2 linked regions of the Homo sapiens genome follow. The protein of the gene in region 1 purifies or fractionates together with the protein of each later gene. This does not show direct contact. Each region holds a gene or a part of one and is shown in the gene's direction. Other genes may lie near its edges.

The links. Proteins that work in one complex are often made in the same cells at the same time.
Region 2: the proteins of EIF2AK3 (region 1) and NXPH3 purify together in Homo sapiens (co-immunoprecipitation; one large-scale study listed by IntAct). This does not show direct contact.

The regions. Positions count from the first base shown.
Region 1 is NC_000002.12:88,624,665-88,628,806, reverse strand, and holds the start of EIF2AK3 (eukaryotic translation initiation factor 2-alpha kinase 3 isoform 1 precursor), read left to right. Parts: upstream 1-1,342; 5' UTR 1,343-1,532; coding exon 1,533-1,840; intron 1,841-3,877; exon of another isoform or gene 3,878-4,061; intron 4,062-4,142. UniProt on the Homo sapiens protein: Metabolic-stress sensing protein kinase that phosphorylates the alpha subunit of eukaryotic translation initiation factor 2 (EIF2S1/eIF-2-alpha) in response to various stress, such as unfolded protein response (UPR).
Region 2 is NC_000017.11:49,578,871-49,581,598, forward strand, and holds part of NXPH3 (neurexophilin-3 precursor), read left to right. Parts: coding exon 1-430; 3' UTR 431-2,728. UniProt on the Homo sapiens protein: May be signaling molecules that resemble neuropeptides. Ligand for alpha-neurexins.

The DNA.
Region 1 (4,142 bases):
TAATGCCCGTAAATTGCAGCACTTTGGGAGGCTGAGGCGGGAGGATGGCTTGAGGCCAGGAATTTGAGACCAACCTGGGCAACACAGAAACCCCATCTTTACAAAACAAAATTAAAAATTGGCCTGGCATGGTGGCACGCATCTGTAGTCCCAGCTACTCCGGAAGCTGAGGAAGGAAGATCGCTTGAACGCAGGAATTCAAGGTTATAGAGAACTATGGTCAAGCCACTGCACTCCAGCCTGGGCAAAAGAGCAAGACCCTCTCTCTAAAAAAAAAATTTTTTTTAATGTTCACTGGTTTTGATGCGGGTAATAGCCTCCCGGCCAGTCTCCTCCTCGTTGATGCTGTCACTGCTGAAGATGCATTTTCTTATCACTTCACTCATCTGCTCAAAAATCTTCAGGAAGTCTTGACTTGCAGCATTAAAAGTTCAAATGCCTTGGCTGAACATTCCAGTCTTCTCCACTCTGCCCTTTTGCAATTTCATCACTGTCTTTGGTGAGGTACAAAGCGTGCCAGGTCAGAGTCAGAAGACATGAATTAAAGTCATGATTCTGTGACCAACCAGCTACGTGATCTTAGGCTAACTACGTCAGTGCACTGGGCCGGGGCTCCTTCCCGTTCCTAAGGAGGCGGGAGGCGTGTCGGGCAGACTGGATTGTCACAGGTCACTGCCATCTCTAACAAGCGGACTTCTGAGCCCCGTTGCGGCCACAAGTAGGACCATCTCCTGCATCCTCCTTACCCTTCTACTTCTAGGGACCACACGGCTTCTGTGGCCACTTCTTGCTGCTTCGCTTTTGCCTTCCTAAGTAGACTAGGCTTTAGAAGAGCTACAATACCAGCTCCTTTAAGGTCGACCTCCTCCCGGTCACAAGGCACTTGCCTCCCACTCTTCACTTGGGACAGTCCTCTTCACAGTCAGAATCCGCCACGTAGTAAGTGCCGCTTCCAACCAATCAAGAGGCAGTTAGCGCAGACCTTTGAGGGACATCCACTTCCACCAATGATCTTCAAGTCTTCTCCAGCGCCTCGCTTTGTGGGGCGAGGCCAACCACCGCGATGGCCAATCTGTTGTAGGAAAGGTATTCCGGGAACTGATGAGCGCACCAATCAGGTAAAAAGACGTCGGGGAAGGGCATTTCTCATTGGTAATTGCGTCCGGAAGAGGGACGGGCCTCGAACGACGAAATTACGATTTGATTGGTAGGTGCGATGTTGACCACCAGGGAAAGTCCACCTTCCCCAACAAGGCCAGCCTGGGAACATGGAGTGGCAGCGGCCGCAGCCAATGAGAGAGCAAACGCGCGGAAAGTTTGCTCAATGGGCGATGTCCGAGATAGGCTGTCACTCAGGTGGCAGCGGCAGAGGCCGGGCTGAGACGTGGCCAGGGGAACACGGCTGGCTGTCCAGGCCGTCGGGGCGGCAGTAGGGTCCCTAGCACGTCCTTGCCTTCTTGGGAGCTCCAAGCGGCGGGAGAGGCAGGCGTCAGTGGCTGCGCCTCCATGCCTGCGCGCGGGGCGGGACGCTGATGGAGCGCGCCATCAGCCCGGGGCTGCTGGTACGGGCGCTGCTGCTGCTGCTGCTGCTGCTGGGGCTCGCGGCAAGGACGGTGGCCGCGGGGCGCGCCCGTGGCCTCCCAGCGCCGACGGCGGAGGCGGCGTTCGGCCTCGGGGCGGCCGCTGCTCCCACCTCAGCGACGCGAGTACCGGCGGCGGGCGCCGTGGCTGCGGCCGAGGTGACTGTGGAGGACGCTGAGGCGCTGCCGGCAGCCGCGGGAGAGCAGGAGCCTCGGGGTCCGGAACCAGACGATGAGACAGAGTTGCGACCGCGCGGCAGGTGAGGGGCTGCCGACCCGGGGGAGGCAACTTGTTTACGCGCGCGAGCCGCGGAGGATGCGGTGTAGGGGGGCGGAGATCCGGGACCCGGGCGGGCGTCTTCCCTCGGCTGCGGAGGGCAGCTGGCGACCTGGGGACGAGCGCGGGGCCACGACGCCCTCCCATCCCCCGGCCAGCGACCTGCCTGGGCTCGGCTCCCGAGGGCCTGGTGCTGGCCGACGGGTCAGAGCAGCATCCTCGCAGGTGCGGGAGAATGGAATTCCAGGGTTGCAAAGAAACGCCACTTCCCCTCTTTCATTGTTTTCGGGCATTGATTCTCTTCCAAGGAACCTTTCCCTCTTTTTCCTTACGCACATCACCTCCTGTCTGTGCTGGCGTGACAGCTGTTTTGAGAAAGGACTTTAGCAAAAGACGTCTGCATTTTCTTTCAAACACAACTCTGTAGTGCCCCCGGACAAGGATTGAGATCAGTGTCTAATTGAGATCTGCGGAACACCTGCATCCGAATCACCTGGGGTTGCTGGTGAAATCTACAGTTTTCTAGGCCCTACCCCAGTTTTACTGAATGAGACATTCCCTGGGTAAGAGCCTGGCATCTGCGTGTTTAACAAGCACGCCGGATAATTCTTGCACGCTAAAGTTTAAGAGCTATAGTCAGATTCTTGAATATTGGTTCTTGAACCTAAGAGCCATGGTTAGGTTCTTGAATAAGGGGTTTACTGTATAAACATTTAATATAGGGTTTTCTTTGAGTTTCTCAGCATTCAAAAAATGTTACTTCAAGGTGATTGTTTTAAAGCACTTTTCAAAGTCTAGACACAATGTAAGGCATGTTAACAGTAAATTTGGGGGACAGCCAATCTTATCACACCCGTGGAGAAAGTGATGTCCCATTTTATAAATGGAGTGCTAAAGGGAGCATTAAGTAAATTAAACTAGGGAAGGCTGGGCTCTGGATTGGAACATATTTTAGACTTATAGTCATTACTAGATCGTAACAAGTTAGATTTAATTTTAAATTAATATTAGAACTTTGATCTATATATCTGGAGACTACTATAAATAGGATAAGTACTAAAATTCTCTAGGCACCATTTGAATATATAAACATTTGTAAATATATATATATAAAACAAAGTTTTCTTAGGTTTGCTAATGAGTCAGTTTTCCTGGAAGAGTGTTTTTGTTTATCATAAATTTCTGAAGCTCCTGCTCAAAATGAATTACATGAAGTAGAGTTGAGACGTTTTCTTTTTCTTAGAATTCAAATCCACTTCAACAGGTACTTACTGGTTAACAAGAGCCCAAGGATGCCCTGGGTGGCAGAGGTTAGGCAGGTAGTTCCTGCCTTCCAGGAGAGTGTGCAGTCTAACAGTACGGATGAAACGAGAAGACCTATAACAACATTACAGACTAGAAACAGTGCCAGTGTCAGGGATGTCCCAAGGTTTTTGTGGTGTTCTACTAGGTGAGGTATGGGAGTGAGGGTAGGTAAGAAGATAAGAGAAGGTTGTGGCAGAATGAGTTGGTTCCTGAAAAATGGGTAAAATTGTAATGGAAAGTCACTGGACTTGAGGAAACAGCAAGAGGCACAGAGGCCGGAGATTATGTTTGGAAAACATTTTGTCTCTGTGTATGTCTGTGTGTGTGTGTGTGTGTGTGTGTGTGTGTGTGTGTGTGTGTACGTAAGCGATATAGACATGCACATATGTATGCTAGGCAGGGAGAAGTAGATGAGGATAGAAAAAATAGGTTAGAGCCGACTGTATATGCATATAGTCTGATGCTAATAGCATCATTGTCACTTGGGAGTATGTTAAAACTCCGGAGTGGGGCACCACCCCACACTCCCTGAATGAGAGTATCTGCATTTTAACAAGATCACCGTGTGATTCACATGCACGTTAAAGTTTGAGAAATGTTGGGTAGAGTATCCTGAGTGCCAGGCTTGATCAAAATTACACCTAAGGAATGTTTCTCTAGCAATAGTGTGTACTGAAAACTTGAGTTAAGAATACCAAAAGGAGAGTGTTATAGCAGTTCAGATGAGAGGTTTAGTGTAAAGTGGTATAGGACAGAGGGGACAGAGTTGAGATATTTGATGCAAAATCTAGGTTCCTGGCAAGTGAATGCATTCTTCCTTTCTTGGTACCCTTGTCCAGAGATTGAGACTGCGTGGCCAGAAGTTGACAAAAGAGGTTTAAGGGAGCAGGGAAGAAAAGGTAAGGGGTTTGGTGTTGGACATGTGACTCGGAGGTGCAGGCAGGACATCCAGAGGGAGGTAGGCGGGTGGAAATGAGTGA
Region 2 (2,728 bases), on another chromosome or scaffold:
GACGGTGGCCCTGAACCTGCTCGTCACAGGGAAGATTGTGGACCATGGCAATGGGACCTTCAGCGTCCACTTCCAACACAATGCCACAGGCCAGGGAAACATCTCCATCAGCCTCGTGCCCCCCAGTAAAGCTGTAGAGTTCCACCAGGAACAGCAGATCTTCATCGAAGCCAAGGCCTCCAAAATCTTCAACTGCCGGATGGAGTGGGAGAAGGTAGAACGGGGCCGCCGGACCTCGCTTTGCACCCACGACCCAGCCAAGATCTGCTCCCGAGACCACGCTCAGAGCTCAGCCACCTGGAGCTGCTCCCAGCCCTTCAAAGTCGTCTGTGTCTACATCGCCTTCTACAGCACGGACTATCGGCTGGTCCAGAAGGTGTGCCCAGATTACAACTACCATAGTGATACCCCCTACTACCCATCTGGGTGACCCGGGGCAGGCCACAGAGGCCAGGCCAGGGCTGGAAGGACAGGCCTGCCCATGCAGGAGACCATCTGGACACCGGGCAGGGAAGGGGTTGGGCCTCAGGCAGGGAGGGGGGTGGAGACGAGGAGATGCCAAGTGGGGCCAGGGCCAAGTCTCAAGTGGCAGAGAAAGGGTCCCAAGTGCTGGTCCCAACCTGAAGCTGTGGAGTGACTAGATCACAGGAGCACTGGAGGAGGAGTGGGCTCTCTGTGCAGCCTCACAGGGCTTTGCCACGGAGCCACAGAGAGATGCTGGGTCCCCGAGGCCTGTGGGCAGGCCGATCAGTGTGGCCCCAGATCAAGTCATGGGAGGAAGCTAAGCCCTTGGTTCTTGCCATCCTGAGGAAAGATAGCAACAGGGAGGGGGAGATTTCATCAGTGTGGACAGCCTGTCAACTTAGGATGGATGGCTGAGAGGGCTTCCTAGGAGCCAGTCAGCAGGGTGGGGTGGGGCCAGAGGAGCTCTCCAGCCCTGCCTAGTGGGCGCCCTCAGCCCCTTGTCGTGTGCTGAGCATGGCATGAGGCTGAAGTGGCAACCCTGGGGTCTTTGATGTCTTGACAGATTGACCATCTGTCTCCAGCCAGGCCACCCCTTTCCAAAATTCCCTCTTCTGCCAGTACTCCCCCTGTACCACCCATTGCTGATGGCACACCCATCCTTAAGCTAAGACAGGACGATTGTGGTCCTCCCACACTAAGGCCACAGCCCATCCGCGTGCTGTGTGTCCCTCTTCCACCCCAACCCCTGCTGGCTCCTCTGGGAGCATCCATGTCCCGGAGAGGGGTCCCTCAACAGTCAGCCTCACCTGTCAGACCGGGGTTCTCCCGGATCTGGATGGCGCCGCCCTCTCAGCAGCGGGCACGGGTGGGGCGGGGCCGGGCCGCAGAGCATGTGCTGGATCTGTTCTGTGTGTCTGTCTGTGGGTGGGGGGAGGGGAGGGAAGTCTTGTGAAACCGCTGATTGCTGACTTTTGTGTGAAGAATCGTGTTCTTGGAGCAGGAAATAAAGCTTGCCCCGGGGCACTGGAGTCAGAGTTGTCCAAGGAAAGGGCCTCAGGCATCCCTTGGTCCAGGAAGAATTTCTCTGATGGCCGCAGGACATTTGCTTGAGACCCAAGTGGCAGGGATCCAACCGCCCTTGGCGCTGATGTTTGCTGAGGGCTCAGGGCTTCCCTCTCCAGCCCCGGTTCCAAGCTGTCTGATCCCCCACGAGGAAACTTGAGCAAACACCCTGGGCTCGGTGCTGGAGGAGGGCGTAGCATCTTCAAGAACAGCTCAGGGAGGGAGAGCTAGCAGGTAGAATGGGCCAATGAGGGTGTTCCTTGGTGTCCTCCCTGAACTGCCATCTGCAGACCCAGCAGGGTCCTAGCCCCGTCATTTTGCTGCGTGGCCTTGGCCATGTCCATTCTCCTCTCTGGCTTTCTTTCTTTGTTTCTTCCTCTATGACATGAAGGGCTTGCCCAGACCAGGGGTTCTCAAACGCGGATCACCCAGAGGGTTTGTTAACACACAGATTTCTGGGTCCTACCCACATTTCTAATTCAGCAGGCCTGGGTGGGGCCTAAGAATTAGAATTTCTAACGAGTGCCCAGGTCTATGCTGATGCTGCTGCTCCAGGGCCCATGCTGGGAGACCCACTCAAAGGACCTTGAAGTTCATCTCTGGCTATGGCTCCGCAGGAGGGGGAGACACCTCGGATGTGATTTCCCAGCTGTAATTTCCATCTGCTTCTCCTGGGGAAGGGGCCTTTCAGAGAATCGGGGCTATTGTATTGGATTTTCAATCTGACCACATGCCAGTGAAGGAACAGGCTGGAGTGGGGTGTGGACACAGGGCCTGCGTCAGTCACTCCCCTCCTGCAGCTAGTAAGAGGCCTCAGAATGGCCAGCTGCCAGTGGCACCTTGTCTGGGAGTTAGTTGGGCCCTTTGGGACTCTGTGAAGGGAAGACACTACCAAGGTCACAGTGCCTTCTGGAGGTCATTCTAAGTCGGCTCTCTTGGGAGGGCAGCACTCAGGGCCCTTTGGGCCCTCTTGAGGAGAGGAGAGTCCTGGCAGTAAGGTAAGATGGGCTTGCCACCCCCCACCTTTCGCCCCTGCCCACCAGCGCTCCGCGCAAACTGGTCCCCTCATACTGCAGCGCAGAGTTGGGTGGGGCTGAGAAGCCATCTGGTTACAGCCCACCTTGTAGGAAATGACCCAGCTTGTTTCCCCCACATCATGCTTCCAGGGGCCGTCTCTCCTGAGTGGAGATGTGAGACACAC